Linked DNA regions of Homo sapiens: region 2 is linked to region 1. The links come from fine-mapping of genetic effects on gene expression. Tissue or cell type: lung. Region 1 holds a variant in brackets; the other region holds the start of a gene. All regions are shown on one strand. Distances are between the middles of the regions.

Region 1 (8,197 bases):
GAGCTGGCTTCTCCTTCAGCTTTTGCCATGATTGTAAGTTTCCTGAGGCCTCCCCAGCCATGCCTCCTGTACAGCCTGCAGAACTATGAGTCAATTAAACCTTTTTTCTTTATAAATTACCCAGTCTCAGGTAGTTCTTTATAGCAGTGTGAAAACGGACTAATACAATCAACCATTCAATGCCCCACTAAAACGAAGTGGCAAACTCTTGGTACAGCGGCACAGTCTCCACCTCTTCTTGCCATCTTTTCAGTCCCATAGCAGACATTTGTAATTGATTATGGCTCTTTATTCACCCGAGGGTAGGAAAAGACCCGGAATCTTGTGTAACACAGTCATATTTCCCATCAGAGTTCTAAAATGAGATGAAGTTCATCTGCACTTGTGTGAGACTAAATCTTCAACCAGTCAGTAGACAAATATTTATGGAGTGCTCAAAGGACAGCTATGCTTAGGAATACGTAGAAGAGATTCAACTCAGTTTCTGCTGAGATTAATTTCCAAAGGGGGAAAGAAGCTAGCAAAGCATAAGTATACATAAGTGAGTCACAATTACCAATAAATGAAAGAGTATTCAGAAGAAGGCCAGCTCAAGGTGGCACTAGGAGGAATGGAGAAGGGCAGGGTTGTTTAGGAAACCTACCTGGAGGTCAAACTACATTTTGGTTTGAAGAAAAATAAATGTGCTTTGGCAGATGGGAGGAGAACAGTTCTATTTAACATGATTTACCCTGAGGTTCATACAGGGTATGCCATACCCTGTGTGGCATATCCCACCATCTTTCAAAGTATCTTGTAGCCATTGCTGCCCTGACATAGGCAGAATCACAAACAGATTTTTTCAGATAAATAAATGCTTGGAGATCAGTCATATAACAAGTAACCTTTGGAAGAGCAGAAAGTTTGCCAGTTTTCCCAAAGCCTCTCTTTAAAAAAACAAAAACAAACAAAAAAAACAACTTTTTTCCTTTCTTTTTTAGTGTTTAGTTGTTACCAAACCAAAGCCTCTCTCTTATAAGCAATATTTGACAATAATAAAATATCAAACCACACTATAAATTGACTCACCAAGGGCAGAATTGAAAAAGAGAACTGTACTTGTTAAAGATTCCTTTGGAGGAGTGTAAGGAAATTGTGAAGAATTAAAAACAAATCCCTATAATATAGATGATAAAACCTTGTGAAATTGAAAAAATTTTCCAGAGAGAAATGTATAAGAGGAAGTGGACAATATTTCTGATAATTTCTCTTAGGTGCTGGCAAGCTGTTGAATTTAGGCACATTTCCTTGCTAGTCTATAGACATTAACACAGGGGATGAATGGCATGATCTGGCAAGAGGAAAACCCCTTCTCCAAGGAGAAGGACCTTGAGGAATTTGGAAGCAGATATTTCATATTCCACAAGTAAAAGAACACCATGCTCTCAAGACATACATTTTCTAGTCACCAACACCACCTCCTCTCAGTCAAGTGACATTTTAGTGGCAAGCTTCATGGAAGGCAGTTACGTACAATGGGGAAATTGAGAAATTATTTTAATGGAGCCTGTGTCTCCAGAAGATTATATGATGCTTTATCAATGGAGAAGAAATATATCTGTATATGCTTCAGGATTATCATTAGACTGTCACATGCAAAAGGGGAAATATGACAGGTTTGGGGATATTAGAGAGCAGCAGGAAATGTGGTGCGTCTGAACTGCTCGAGTCATGCCCACAACTCCCATTCAGCCGGCTTACGATGGAAGAGGTGAGCCCCTTCTCATTTCAGGCAAATTCTTCCGCTATGTCTTCCCACCTCCTCAGGGCCCTTGTACAATAGATTATAGCCTTTCTTTTTTGTACCTTCAGTTTCATGGAGCTCATATCTTTCTTCATTTAAACATAGTCGTGTCTTTTCGTCTTAAAACTAGCAAGTCTCTGTCTAACCCAAAACGTTACCAACATTTGGCCCCACTTTCCTTCGTCAAAATCAACTTTTTAAAAAGAGTTGCCTGTACTTGCTCTCTTCCTCAACTCTCATTTATTTTTTTACCCATTATAATCTGGCTTCTGTTTTACCTCTATATGAAAACTGCTTTACCCAAGACAGCATTGTTGCTCAGTTCAATGGACATTTTTCAGCCTTTATTTTACTTTGCCTCCAAGAGAAATTTTTGACTCTGCTCTCTTTGTTTAAACACATTCTTCTTTTGGTGCCCATAGAAGTAAACTCCTGTGGTTTTTGACCTGCATCTGTGGCTACATCTGCTTGGTCTCCTTTGGGAGCCGTCTGTCCCTTAAATGTAGGTGTTTTAGTCTGTTGGGGCTGCTATAAAGGAATGCCGAGGCTGGATAATTTTTAAGGAAAAGAGGTTTATCTTGGCTCATGGCTCTGCAGGCCATACAAGAAACATGGCACCAGCATCTGCTTCTGGTGAGGGCTTCAGGAAGCTTCCATTTATTGTGGAAGACGAAGGGGAGCTGGTGTGTGCAGAGATCACATGGCCAGAGAGGAAGCAAGAGAGGAGGAGCTGCCAGGTTCTTTTCAACAACCAGTTTCTGCAGGAACTAAGAGTGAGAACTCACCCACTCCCATGAGAAGTCACTCCCCTGAGAATGGCACCAAGCCATTCCTGAGGGATCTGCACCCCCCATGACCCTCCCACCAGGCCTCACTTCAAACATTGCAGATCAAATTTCAACATGAGACTTGGCAGCGCCAAACAAGCTATATCCAAACCATACCCAAACTATAGCAGAGGGTGAGACTCAGAACTGCACCCTAGATCATCTTCTGTCCCTGCTCTGTGTCACTTTCTATGGACCATCTCCATCATTAATGACAAGAGTACTCTTCCTTTAATGATGATAGTTATCCCCCAAGACCTGAACACTCTTAAATGGCTGAATAAAATCTATTACTTCCCACCAGGCATTTCTTATTGAGCCCCAAGACAAAATGTCTTATTATTTAGGGAATATTTCTATTTGAATGTCTCTCATTTGGTGAAATCTTAACAATGAAGGACAGTGCAACTTACAATTTCCCTCCTTCCCTACAAACGTGCTCCTCATTCCATTTCCCCTTCCAGAATTTTGTTTTCAGAACAGAAATCCAGAAGTTATCTTTTACTCATCCTACTTCCTCACTCACAATTCTGTGTTATTAAGACCTGTCCTTTATATGTCTTCAATATTTTTCAAATATTTCCATTTTCTCCATCTCCTCTGCCCCTAACACAAAGAAGTCACTGCCATTTCTCATGTGGACAGCTGTATCCTGCCCCCTCCACGGCCTCTTGGACTGTCTTTATCCCTTCCCATCTTGATGTTAAAATGTTTCCTCTTATTTTCTTGAACTCATAATATGTTTTCTCACACAGTGAAATGCATGGCAGTTATTTCTTTGGGCTAGCATGCAAAAGTCATTTAGCCACACAGGGTAATTTAGAAAATGGCATCTCTCAAGTTCAAGGCTGGTGTCATTTCTCTCCCTCTCTCTCCAAATTACCATCTAGGTCAACTGTAAAATGCCCCTGCAGCCTCCGGCCTCCTGCATTCTACTCCATTCCTCTGTTTTTACTGGCAGGTGAACTTTTTGTTCATCAATCAGTTCAGCCATCTCTTCATCCATCCATTCACACACCTTCAGCTTTGTCCCTAAATAATTTAAATCTCCTA[A/C]CAGAGATGTAGAAAACATGAAAGTAGGTGAGAAAAATACAAAGGATAGTGAGCAGGTTATTCCCATTGTGAATTGAAGATGGATTGCAGCAAAGAATACTTCTTGGGGGACAAATTCCTGCTGAGCGTGTTCTGTAACATCACAATACAAGAGAAAACTTAACAGAAAATGTGTTTGAAGTTGCTGAGACCATCTCCTCCCCAGAGATGCCCTTTGCTACACTGGCAGGGCCACTCCAGCTGTAGTCCCAGAGGGATGCGGCCCTGGTGTGAGGGGCAGTATTTCAGCTGGAGGAGCAGAGTTGGGAGAGGGCTGAGGGCTGGTTTCGGGGGTGGAGGCTCCTGGAGGAGGGGTGGAGGGGCTGGCTGTGCAGGGCCAGGGCCTCCTCCTGGGAGCGTGAGCTGGGGGGTAGGTGAGGCGTGCTCTTTACCTTGCTCTGCTCTCAGGCCATGCCTGGACTGTTCTTCCTGCTCTGGCACCTCAGGGAATCAATCACTTTTGTCTCTTCCTATTGCCTGCTGTTCCTGAACAGGGCTCCTCTTCTCGCTGGTCCACAGGAACCTGTTGACCTTCCCCGGTGTGCCTTAGGGAAGCGGAACACCCTCAAAGTATAAGTGTGTTTTGCCATGAACAAGGCCAGGACCACAGAGCCACCTTCCTCTGCCCCTTCTCATCTCTGCTTCTTATTTCCACACCTTCCCACCTTTCCCTTCCCTTACTGCACTGCCTTCTTCCTTCTCCTCTTCCTTTGTTCCTCCTTTCCTCTTTTTCTTCCTTTTCCCTTCCCTTCTTACTAAACAAAGTAAGAAGTGGACAAAGTGTGGGCGTTGGTCTGACACGCAGGCTGGAGCTAAGAGCTACTCTACCAGGAGGACTTGCAGGTTGGGGCTCGGGCACATTGCAGCAGCGGAGGAGCCTCTGGAGTAGCCAGGCCCCAGCGGGACACGGCACCTGGTGCAGGTGAACTCTTCTCTATTATAAGAGTGTGACGCTAATCTTCAGCTCTCCTGGGTTCTCTTCATCATAAATATTCCTGGAATGAACATCACTGTGTTGGCTTGTCCTGAGGCACTCACCTCAGCCACTCCCTTCTAGGCTGGACCTTTGTGTTCTGTAGAGAGCTGCCTTGGGTGGTAGAGGCTGGCCTGAGAGTCCCAGCAAGTCAGTGCCCACTTCAAGTCATCTTCAGAAGTAGCTTATTTTATTTGTTCTAAATAATTATCTGTCCATTTCAACATATACTGCAGATGAAATATCTGCCAATGCAGCATTACATAAATACCAACGTAGTGCCAGCTCCAGCTGAGAGTGAAGCCGGGACTTGTTTACCTACAGTAACTGCGTGCTCAGCATTCTTGGGTGAGGCTGTTTATCATGGCCAACCTGCAGCCAGTGGTCTGGAGAGGCTCTTGCACCTGTATGGTCCCACCTCAGAGAGGCAAATGGATCTCTGCTTGTTGAGAGTGATTCTGAAACTATGCAAGCTCATGGATAAGGGGCTCTGACTGGCAGATGGAGTTTGTTGAGGGTAAAAGGAGTCACCTGGTGGGTGCTGGTCCTGGGGAAGGCATGCAGTCAGCCAGGATTGCTTGCCTTTTCAAGCCACCCTATGTGAAGTCACCTTTTGCTGAGGCATCCTGGCTCAGCGGATCTGGGCTCATAGTTGTGAAGACCTGCAAAGTTGCTGATCCATCTGTATGGAATTGTCTGCATCCGTGCAGGGTGTGACAACCCGGCATGTCACTGTGGTCAGAGCAGCCCGGGGCTCTCCTGCATGCAGCGCCGGTGCAGACTTCCAGCAAGCCCATCTGGGGACTGTCCACTGCTTTATAAAGGGTATGGGCAGGGAACTCTGGCCATGTTCGAGCAGGATGTGATTAACATGACACAGACTACTGTTTTCTTGTTCTAACAGCATTTTCAGTGGCATGGCAGTGAGTGGGTCACAGGACATAAGAAAAGACAGTGGATGAAGTTAAGAGAAATAGAAAAGCCGCAGGAAGCAATTTTGGAGGACGCCAGTGCTGCTGGCAGGAGAAACCCCAGCCAGCAAGCCACGGCTCCCCCGTGGGCCTGCCCACCTTGCCAGCCTCCCAAAGGTGGTGCCGCTCCCAGCCGCAGCCCCATCCTATCTTGAGAGCCCCTGTTTGGGGTCTCCACTTTCTCTGCTGGCCCAGAGGAGCCGTTGCCTTTGCAGGGATCTTCTTAGTTGTGCCTGAAGATTGTGGCACCCTTGACCTCTCTCCTCTGCCATCTCAATACCATATTCATTTCTGTCCCGCAGGCTTCTTTCACGAGGCTGTAATTACTGGCAGGGACACCTTACCTACCTCCTCCTCTCTCTCCAAATACTGTCCTTCGAGGCCTAATTGAAGGCCTCTCTCCTCCAGGAAGTCTTTTCTGAATGTTGGAGGCTCTGATAACCTTCCGGGTTTTTCCCTCCCTAACTCTGCACCTACAGCAGTTCGGCATTACACACCATCCTGCGTTCTTCATTTGTTTATTCAACCACGTTTTAGGGATTTTGAAGGTGAATTACTGTTGCTGTTTCCATCAGCAATAAACAGACATATAGACACATAGTTGGACACATTTGGACACGTCAAATAAGTCTTAAAGGCCGTGGAATGAGTCTAGTTATATATGTTTTTCCATTCTAGATGGCATGAAATTTAATGTCTATTCAAAAGTCGAAACTATAAAACTCCACTAAGTATAAGCTTTCCAGATAACTAGTTTATTTTCTCCCTGGAACTTAAAATAGGAGGAGGAAAGGGAAGTCTAATTCTGAGAAAGTAGGATCTCTTTCGGATGTTTTGTCCATTAAATAGTGAATATTTTATTACACTAAAAAATTCTATGCATGTAGACTTACAGTAAGTACTCCATATACATTTTAGGCTGATAAATTGGAATAACTGGTATTCTAAGGGGCATAATTTCCTAACATAAGGACACAGTTACCTGTGCTACAATGAAGAGATTAAAAATTGGTTATTGAATGCTTTATCTTAAAGGAGTGCTGTGTAGTAAAGAAGATTCATATTTGCTAAGCTCTTTAAAAACTGTAATGCATGGTGCAAATGTTACATATATAGACGTACATTCTCTTTGCAAAGAGCTTTCACAAAGGACAATGTACTATGAAGATGGCCACTTGGAAGTAAATAGGACTTTGAGGCGTTTCTGATGCCACTGTAGAGAATGTCAACAATGGCAGTATTAAATTTGCTGTTTTTTATTATTTATTTCAATGCCCAGAAGCAAACTGTTGAATAATTTCACCATCAGGTTACAATTGAATTAGGTTCTAAATTATAGGAGGTTAGTGGGACTCTGTGGACCTGAAATTGACCTCTGCTGTCGCCTGGAGACAGTTCTGGGCATCTTGCTGACAACTGCCGCTAAAGGAATTGTGGAGCCTGTTGGTCCTCATGAGAGGAAGTCAGCGCTTTCCTCATCCATCTTTTCTTCCTTCTTAAGAAAAATTCTTCTGTCCCAAATTTCTTCCCAGAGGAGGGTTCTCCTAGAACTATTCAAGGGTCTCTTCCAACAGCATTTGACAGGTGTGGAATTACTACTTAAAAAAGTCACGAGACTAACTAACTGAAGGGGAACGATGGTGCTTGACTACGAATGCCACATTTGTGCTCAGGTGCAGGTTATTCAAGCTGTGGCTGAATGTCTTTGGAACCATTACTGGAGCAAAGCCTGCAGACAACTCCTTGCTAAACCATAAAATGATGATTCTGGCAAGCAAAGATCAGATGCAATCTGAGTGCTCTGAGAAGCAGAAGAATCAGTGCTTTGAAAGGGATCACAAATACTGGATTTTTTGTTGTGGTGGTGGTGGTGGTTTTGTCTTTTTTAGAGGCAGAAGGCAGAGGTCTCACTCTGTCACCCAGGCTGGAGTGCTGTGGCACGATTATTGCTCACTGCAGCCTCTAACTCCTGGGCTCAAAGTGATCCTCCTGCCCCAGCCCCCTGAGTGCCATAGGTGTGCACCACCTCTCCCCTGGTTACTTTTCTGTAGAGACGGGGGTCTCACTATGTTGACTAGGCTGGTCTTGAACTCCTGGACTCAAGTGATCCTCTTGCCTCAGCCTCCCAGAGCATTGGGACTACAGGTATGAGCCACTATGCCTGGCCTGCAAATACTTTTAAATTGAGATATGAAATTTAGCCCTTTCTGGTTCAGTAAAATGTTTACTATTTTTATAAACAAAACATCAGAAGGAGATTCTACTTTCTCAGAATTAGACTTCCCTTCCATCCTATTTTCAGGTCCAGGGAGAAAGTAAACTGGTCATTTGGAAAGATTATTTTCAGGAGTTTTATAGTTTTGGACTTTTGAATTAGACAGTAAATTTCAAGCTGTCTGGAATGGAAAAACATATATAACTAGACTCATTCTGCGACCTTTAAGACTTATGTGATGTGTCCAAATGTTGGTCACTGTGCTAGAGAATCACTCCAGTCTGCATTTATTCCAATTTATAAAGGTTTCTTTTTATTTTCAGCTGAAATTTTTAC
Region 2 (8,145 bases), 41 kb after region 1:
AATCATAGTAGCTCTCATTGATTAGAGTCTCCATGTGCTTATCATGTGCAGGGCACGGTTCTACTTCCCTAACTCTAGATGATCAGGGAACGTTCTCGCGGAAACGCTGTGCGAGAAATGCTGATTGGGATCTTGGACCTGTTGCTTTTGAGGTGGGCAGGAGATGAGCTGGAGGAAACTGAAGGAAACTGAGCCAGCGACTGGAGGGACGGGGTCTGGGAGGGAACCAGCTCGTAGGGGGTCTCTGGGATCCCTGCTTCTCCAGAAAGAGCAAGAGGGAGCTGCGCCCTGCTGGAGAGCGGGAGAATGGAGGCGAGAATCAGGGAGGGAGGAATGAGTGAGAGAGATCCCGAGCTGGGAGGAGATGCTGGGGAGCCAGCGGAGACACCCAGGGGCGGGCGCGGGAAGGGGCGCAGGAGGAAGCCAGAGCTCTCCAGGGGCCATTTTAGAATGGCCGTGGGAACTGAAACTTTGAAAGCAGCGTGACTGTGTGTCTTTAGGCGCAGAATCTCCATTTCCCGGCAGGGCAGGGAACGCAGCACAGGGAGGCTGAGAGGGGGGTCGGGCGGCCTCCACTGCCACCTCCTCAGCCGCCGAGGCGCAGGGAGCCCTGGGGGAGGTTAGACCCCTTCCTACCTGCACTCCCTTATCACAAAATGTCTTTAAAGCACACTTCTGGGAAGCGGGGGAACGATTTCGCCGCTGGAAAAGGGAGTCACACCACATTGAAAACACTGGGCTCTAGGGCCATGTGGAAAGGGAAGAGGCCTCCAACACTCCTCTCCATTGGACGCCTGTCTTCATGGGTTTCACGGTCAAATGTATGATGTAAGGAGAACCCACATGAGGAGATAGTCTTGGAAGTGTGGTCAGGGCGGCACCTGTGGTTAAACTTCTCTTTGGCAGCACTCTCTTTGGATGCAACAGCTTCAAGACTAGATGGAGATTTAAGGAATTATAAATGAAATAAACAATTAGCCAACATTATTAGTGGTTCACGATAATGAAATGTGAGAACAATCAAATGCCAATCATCAAAGCGTGGCTGAGAGGCCAAGGCATCCCCGATGCTTTCTCTGTTATGGGGGGATAAAGAGGCTCCTTCAATTGCTACCTTTGGAAACATCACCTCCTTTTGACATGGTGAGAGTCGGGGTCAAGAGAAGTGGACTCCCTCTACCATCGACTCCAGATCAAGGCTCAAGTTGAAGAGGACCAGTCCCAGGAGGGAGGAGAGGCTCACTGTTCAGCAAGCCCGTGGACACCGATGTAGAGGGGAGGCACTTGAAGAGCCCCAAATATCTGATGCCTGCAAAGTGCACTGATGACCAAAAGGGAGGGAGGGGCGTGGGGAAGGAGGGGAGAGTGAAGGAGGTGGGAAGGGAGAAGAGCAGAGGGAAGAACAGCAGGCGTGGGGTTGGGGGGCATTGCACTCCAGTCTCAACAGGCAGCCCCATTCCTGTGGCCCAGTAGGCCTGCATGTTCTAATCTCCAGGACTGATTTTACTTGCTCCAAAATACTTGCACATTGATGCCTTCACAAATAGGCTATTTTGATGAGTGAAGCAACCACCGCTTACAAAAAAGCTGTCCTCTTCAGTGTAGGTATGCCACTATGACTACAAACACCTCGGACACCCCGGCTGCACCCTATCTAGTCCCAGGAATGACTGGCTGTCAGGGTCCCCGTCAAGTCCATTCTGTGCTTGATGGCAGGTGGCCTGTGGCTTGTGCAGCCCAGAGCCAGACACCACCAGCCTGGAGGCGCCGGGGTTTCCTGCCTTGGGAAAGGCAGACAGATGGAAATAACAAGATGAAGAAAGAAAGATATGAAAGGAGGGAAGGAGGGTGACAGGGAGACAGGAGAAAAGACAGGGAGGGAGGGAGAGAGGGGGAGAGAACAAAAGAGAGACATCAAGAGGAAGAACTGAAACTAAGTTCTGGAACTTCAAAAGTAAAAACAGAACCCCAGGAACACTGACTATGGAATCTCTCCTCTGTAGAAAGGAGCACTGAGTCTATGAGCTACAGGGGAATGTGTAATCGGGCGCAGAACCTCCATCACAGATGGCCTCATCTGTTGTCAAATCTGATTAGTATTAAGAAACAGTCTTACTTGAGGTCAGGAGTTTGAGACCAGCCTGGCCAACATGGCAAAACCCTGTCTCTACTAAAAATACAAAAATTAACCGGCTTTGGTGGCCCACACCTGTAGTCCCAGCTACTCGGGAGGCTGAGGCAGGAGAATCGCTTGAACCCAGGAGGTGGAGGTTGCACTGAGCCGAGATCGCGGCACTGCACTCCAGCCTGGGTGACAGAATGAGACTCCATCTCAGGAAAAAAAAAAAAAAAAAGAAACAAAAAGAAACAGTTTCCTAGTCCAACATGGATTTGAAAAAGTCTCTGATTCTATGTTTTCTCCAATATGTTTAAAATGTGTACTACATTTAAAATACATTTTTATTTGAATTACTTTTAGGAATACTTTCAAACTATGACGGGCTGGTACAATTTCTAACTTTGAATATTGAAACAAAAATTATCTCTGAGGAAAATTTGTCGAGTTCAATATAACAAAATAAAAATATTTTTTATTTAATAAAAATAAAGAAAGAAAGAAATCCCATGTGTTCACGTCTTCATTTAGTGTTTCCCTCCCAGTTCTCAGGAGGCCACCATGCCGCCCTGTTCCGCACATAGCACTGGGTTCTTAAAAATGGTCAGTCTCGGTATTTCTGGCCGGGCAGCCCCTGGGAACAATCGCCTTGTTGATAGTTTTCCACACTTAATCAGAGAATTTAAAGCAATACAAATGGAATAGTGGTGAAAGTACCAACTCTGACCTTAACTCTTCATACATTGTCTTAAGTTTAAATTCAGCCCTCAAAAACAAATTTAAAACAAAATGAAAGTTTTTCCTCTGGATATTTGAAAGACTGACACCCATTTTCACTCTCTCAATCTAAGTGAAGCCTTATGGAAATGATTAGCACACAAGGCATATTTCTATAGTTGGATATTTATAAAATATAACGTGGCACATTAAAATTTTTCTAGACTCTATCACCACCTTAAAAATGAATATTTAAAAATTACCCTGCAGTTACATGCCAGTGTGCTTGAAATTTATTTTTATAAATATTCATTTGAATTATAGGCTTCAAATGTCTGTATCAAGCAATAAATTGTCATTTTAAAACCAGGAACAACAAAGAGTGACTGTTTATTGGGTTTAAAAAAGGCTTTTATCTCTCACAGACTTTGGGATCCGGTTTAAGGGTTGTAGAATGGTAAGAAGTATCGGGCATTTGGAAAAAATGGAGATCCAAGGAGTGAAGAAGTGTGTCAGATCTTTTTAAGCAGGAAATCGAGTGATGGCTGCCTACTGCAGGACGTCACAGATGTCTGCACCTGTCCAACCCTTGACAGATGCTCCCAACACACCCAACCTGGGAGCCAGTCAGCCTAACCATCTTCCCTGCAAATACACACAGTACAAAAATAAAATGTTCTCTCATCAAGTCTAAATAGAGATCCACATAAGCCATCCATGTCAGAGAACTCTAGCTTTGTACGCTATGATAAAAAAAAGTATTTAAAATGAAATAAACACCTTAATTCATGCTCATCTTGAGACACACTTACCAAAGTTTAAATGTTTAAAAATAAGGCAATAGACATTTTTATGGTTGATAACAAACTACAAATTTGTCTGGGGGAAAAAATCATTAAATGTTTGACAAAAGAGCTGTGATAAGAGATAAAGAACACAGTATTCACTGTCTAAAGAACCAGAGGGGAAAATACAGCTTGTCCCCGAGCCCACATTTTCAACTATGTGTGCTATGATTACAGTTCTAAACAATGGATACTGTGTCAGCACAGAGAAAAACAAACAATAGATCTTTTTCTGAAAGTATCTGTAGGAAGACCATACAAAACAGTCAACAAGGGAACTGAAATAATCCTTGCATTCTTTGCAAAAATAATACTTTAAGGTTCCTTTGCAAGAATGTTGGTATTCTTTTCCACTGTGCATTTCATTTTCCTTCATTCACTACAGATTTTCTCCCAACCTGCACCTGGTTTGAGCAGCAGTCAGCTGGCTTCTGGGGACTTTCCCTATTTCATTCCCTCTAACCCCCAGAGACTCTGGAGGCAGCTGCACAACTGTGCTTTCTTTAGTTATAAAAGCTAGCTTGTGACATCCTTTGTGTGATTCAGTTAAAAACTGAATTAACTGAAATCAATTCAACAACAACTGCCCCGGTGCTTCCCCGTAGATAGCACCGCTGGTCAGTTCGGGAGGGGATGGGACATTGAGGAGCAGGACAGTCTTCAGGAAGCTTACAGTCTGCTTTGGGGTGTGAGACACCAGGCGGGGTGTGGCTTTCATTGGGAGGGACTCCTATGAAGTGTTACAGGGTTTAGAGAAAAAAGGTGGCTGGAAATGGAAGATGAGAGGATCCTGGACAACCTGGGGGCAGAGGGACGTCATGGCTCTGAGTGGGAGTGGAGAAGATGGCATTTTGGTGGATGGGTGGAGGAAGAGCATAGGCACAGATGGCCACGTGGAGTGTGGTCCACAGATAAGTCACCTGGTGGAGTGCAGCCACAGTGCCTGAGTCAGGAGGTCTCAGCTCGTGAGTGTATCTTAGCTCAACGATACACTCAAGATCCTTGAGCTAGGAGAAACCCTATAAACCACCTAAGTGGATGCCTTCTCTTTAGAGAGGAGAGAGCTTAGGTCACAGAGAGGCTGTGACCTCCCCCAAGGGTGGTGCAGAAAGCGGCCATAGCAGTGAAGGGGAAAGGCCTCGTGGCGTTGGGGGGCCACTCGCCATAAAGGTGTGGGGGTCAGAGAAAGGGAAGATCAGAGGACACTGGAACTTGACACTGAGCTGAGGAATGAGACTGGGTGGGATCATTCATAGAAATTTCATCTGAAGCCTGGGAAGGAAGTAGGTTTGGGGGGTGGCGGGAAGGGATGATGGTGAAGTTAGTTTTTTAATTATTGCTTTTATTTATGTATTTATTGTTTGCAATTTTGAGGTCTAGTGTCCATTTAAGTGGAATGGCTTAGGAAAAGGTGCTCATATTTTAAGCTGTTCTCCTGGACTAAGGGTGAATACATAGTCCCTCTTTTAACTTGAATCTAAGTAACAGGTTTTTTGTTTGTTTGTTTTGTTTTTCAAATGATAATATGTAATATTTTAAATTCAGTATTCTAATAAATGCTAAATAAGGGATTTCTGATTTCAGTTGTTTCAGGAACACAGTCATCCCTCAGAAATGGATTGGGTGACAAGTGGTCTGCATGCTGCACACGGGCACTGGGTGAGTGTGCTTGGAGCTGTTTGTCAGGACATCATCAGCAATAGACAGAACACGAGGGAAGTAATCAGTGAAAGAAGACGAAGTTGTTAAGTTGTTTCTGACTTTATCTTTGGAGCGGGCTCACAGAACATTTGAGTGGGCTTTTTGGTATAAGAGAAAGAGCCCTACACTTTTGCCCAATTCTAGTTCTAGGCTCCAAAACAAATTTTACTAGGGTTCTGAACTGACGGGTTAGACTGTTTTTGTTAACTTTTATTCTTATAAATATTTTTGGCCATTGCAGTCCAATCAGAAGAAAAGTAGAAAGCAGGTCATTTTTACCTTCTCTAAGAAAAGAAATCCAAAATTTACAGGAAAGCCCATTCTTGAAAGTCCCTTGTGCTGCTAGGCAGGGCCTTTCGATTATTTTCAGACAGATGTTGAACCTTCAGAATTTCCTCCGTGCATCGGGGTCACTGACTACTTGTGTCTAATGCAACTCTGCACTAACTAGATTGTGCGCCGACCTCTATTTTCACTTTCAAACCTCATATTCCAACGTTGCTCAAGGTTGACTGTCACTGACTGGGCTTTTCTTTACGACTGTACTTATGAAGAACAAATGTACTTGTAAATGTTTGGGGACTTCAAATTTAGTTTACAAATGTGTAGTCCTCATTGAAGATTCGATTTGTATTATATTTAGGCAAGTTTTCTGGCTCTTAATGGGGTCCTAATGAGTCACCGATGGTAAGGCTTCAGATTCAGACCTTCCTGTTAGGATGGGGATGAGCTGTTTGTCCTCATTTGCCAATTATTTGGAAGAGAAAACCAATGTAATGCAATCGGAATCCAGTTGTATTATTAAGACCCGCATTTGAAACCTAGTTTCTTCTATCAGAAGTAATTTTTCTGATTTTTGGATTATGTACTTCTCCTTCATATAAATGAATGTTACTGCTTTTGTGGTGTTACCAGACCTAGCTTATAGAAATAAATGACAGGCCACCTGGGGGTCTGCCCGTGCAAGCATGAACTAAGCAGCAACAAGCAGTATGCCCTGCGGTGACCAGTGTGTCAGCATTCACATAAGCCCGGGACAGTGAATGCGGGCCCTTGTCAGTCACGGGCATCAGGCGCATGGCACTGGGCACAGCTGACTGCCTGTTGATGCTGATGGCTGGATGGCTGCATTTAAGTACACTTTCACAAAACTCATTTGTATCTCTTCCCGAAGAAACCTAAATGGAATTAATTTGTTGGAGGGCTGCAATGTAAAATTTTTAAATAGAGAACAAAATGGAGTATGTTGCTGTTTCATGGAAGAGAACACGGGAGAAACTAGCAATCTGTAAGCTAAAAATTGATGGCAGCCCCTGCCACAATGAATAATTGGCAATGCCATTCAGCCTTTAAAGGTATCAGATAATGAATAAGCTGGGCATAAGGCATCTAGTTCCCTTCCATTATTCTCCAATAGGTTATGTAATAAACATCCATCCCTGAAAGATAATTCTGTTTTTCATTGTTCTGTAAGAGAAGATAATTCTCTCTTTTTTTAAATTGTCCTGGAAGACATTCTTAAAACACCTTGTTAACAAACTGGCTAAATGTCCACCTACAGAATTGCACTAACTAAAACCAAAATTAGTCATTAGAGCTGTTATGCATTTGTCAGCAAATCCCTTATGTCCATCTCATGCCTGACTTTTCTTTAACAAAACTATGTTATACGTAGAACTTAGCAGTACAGATGATGCCTGCTTTGATCATACAAACGGGCTTTATACATGAATTGTAATTTCCACTTTAATTTGTTTTTGCGAAATCTTTCCTGCAGTATCATTCCATCTCAGCATTCCCCAACCACCTTTGACATTTTAATCAATTATCCTCTCATGTCTTGTTAGGCCACAAACGTATGGGCTCTATTTTTTCAAAGAAAAGTATGTTGGTCACTTACAAGATGGATCCAAATGTAAAAGATGTTTTTCACGTTCTAGCGTACATTCCTAATTGTTCTTAGTCAATGTCTGCAAATGAATAGTATGTGGAAATATCCTAAGCCCATGCTTGCTTTGTACAAAGGAATCCTTTCCCCTCTACTGAATGCTATCTGGATGGGCAATGACGACAGTTTTTCAGATCTCAAACACAACAGAACGACACACCAAGTCAGACATGAACTAAACTGCAATTGTAACTACTGAGGGAATTTTTATGCAGATTATGTAACAAAAATGAAACTAGACAAAGTGTGAGAAAGGCCACTAAAATAAAACGGTCAGGCCACGCTTTAGAACTGTAGAATCAAAGAGTCTTCACCTTTCTAGGCTGGAGACGACCTTCTCACTCACGGACCAAACCCTTGGTGTGACCTCTATTTCCCAAGAGATGAGCCTTCAGGCCTGAGGATCAGTGGCCTGATTCTTATAAAGGAGACGGTGGACTCACAAAGGCATCACGTCAGTATTTTAACAAGCTCACCTCTAAGAGATGACGTTAGATTTTCTACTGTAGCTTCGGGGGCTTAAATAGACACTCCTTAATTTAGAGTTAGTAAGCTCAATCATTTTGATCAGGTACAGGTTTTTAGCAACAACTGTCATCAAAACAGGTTTTCCAGTAGCAAATGAATTTGATACTGACTAAACATTTGGTAAAAGATGACTATGCACATGCCAAAGAAAAGAGTGACTTGGGAGAGCTTTTTCTATACAAAGAATGGTTGACTTGGGGCTCCTGCCTCCCCGATGTTCTGATGCAAACCAGTCCTGTGTGTGGGGACTCTATTTGCACAGATCACATAGTTCCCTGTAGGAAAAGATA

What was found. PIP is the estimated chance that this variant, and not a neighbour inherited with it, causes the effect.
Region 2: it holds the start of PACRG-AS3, and the variant in region 1 is fine-mapped to the expression of PACRG-AS3 in lung (GTEx, PIP 0.96).

Annotation. Positions count from the first base shown.
Region 1 is chr6:163,228,694-163,236,890 of GRCh38, reverse strand. The region is part of intron 4 of PACRG (parkin coregulated); the gene reads right to left. Among named protein-coding and RNA genes, the nearest start is that of PACRG-AS3, 41 kb to the right of the region's middle. The variant A/C (reference allele first, on the strand shown) is at 3,664.
Region 2 is chr6:163,188,100-163,196,244 of GRCh38, reverse strand. PACRG-AS3 (PACRG antisense RNA 3) reads left to right here and starts at 4,243. Exons shown (of 4, transcript NR_122120.1): 1 at 4,243-4,364; 2 at 5,263-5,337. All of the region lies in intron 4 of PACRG (parkin coregulated), which reads right to left.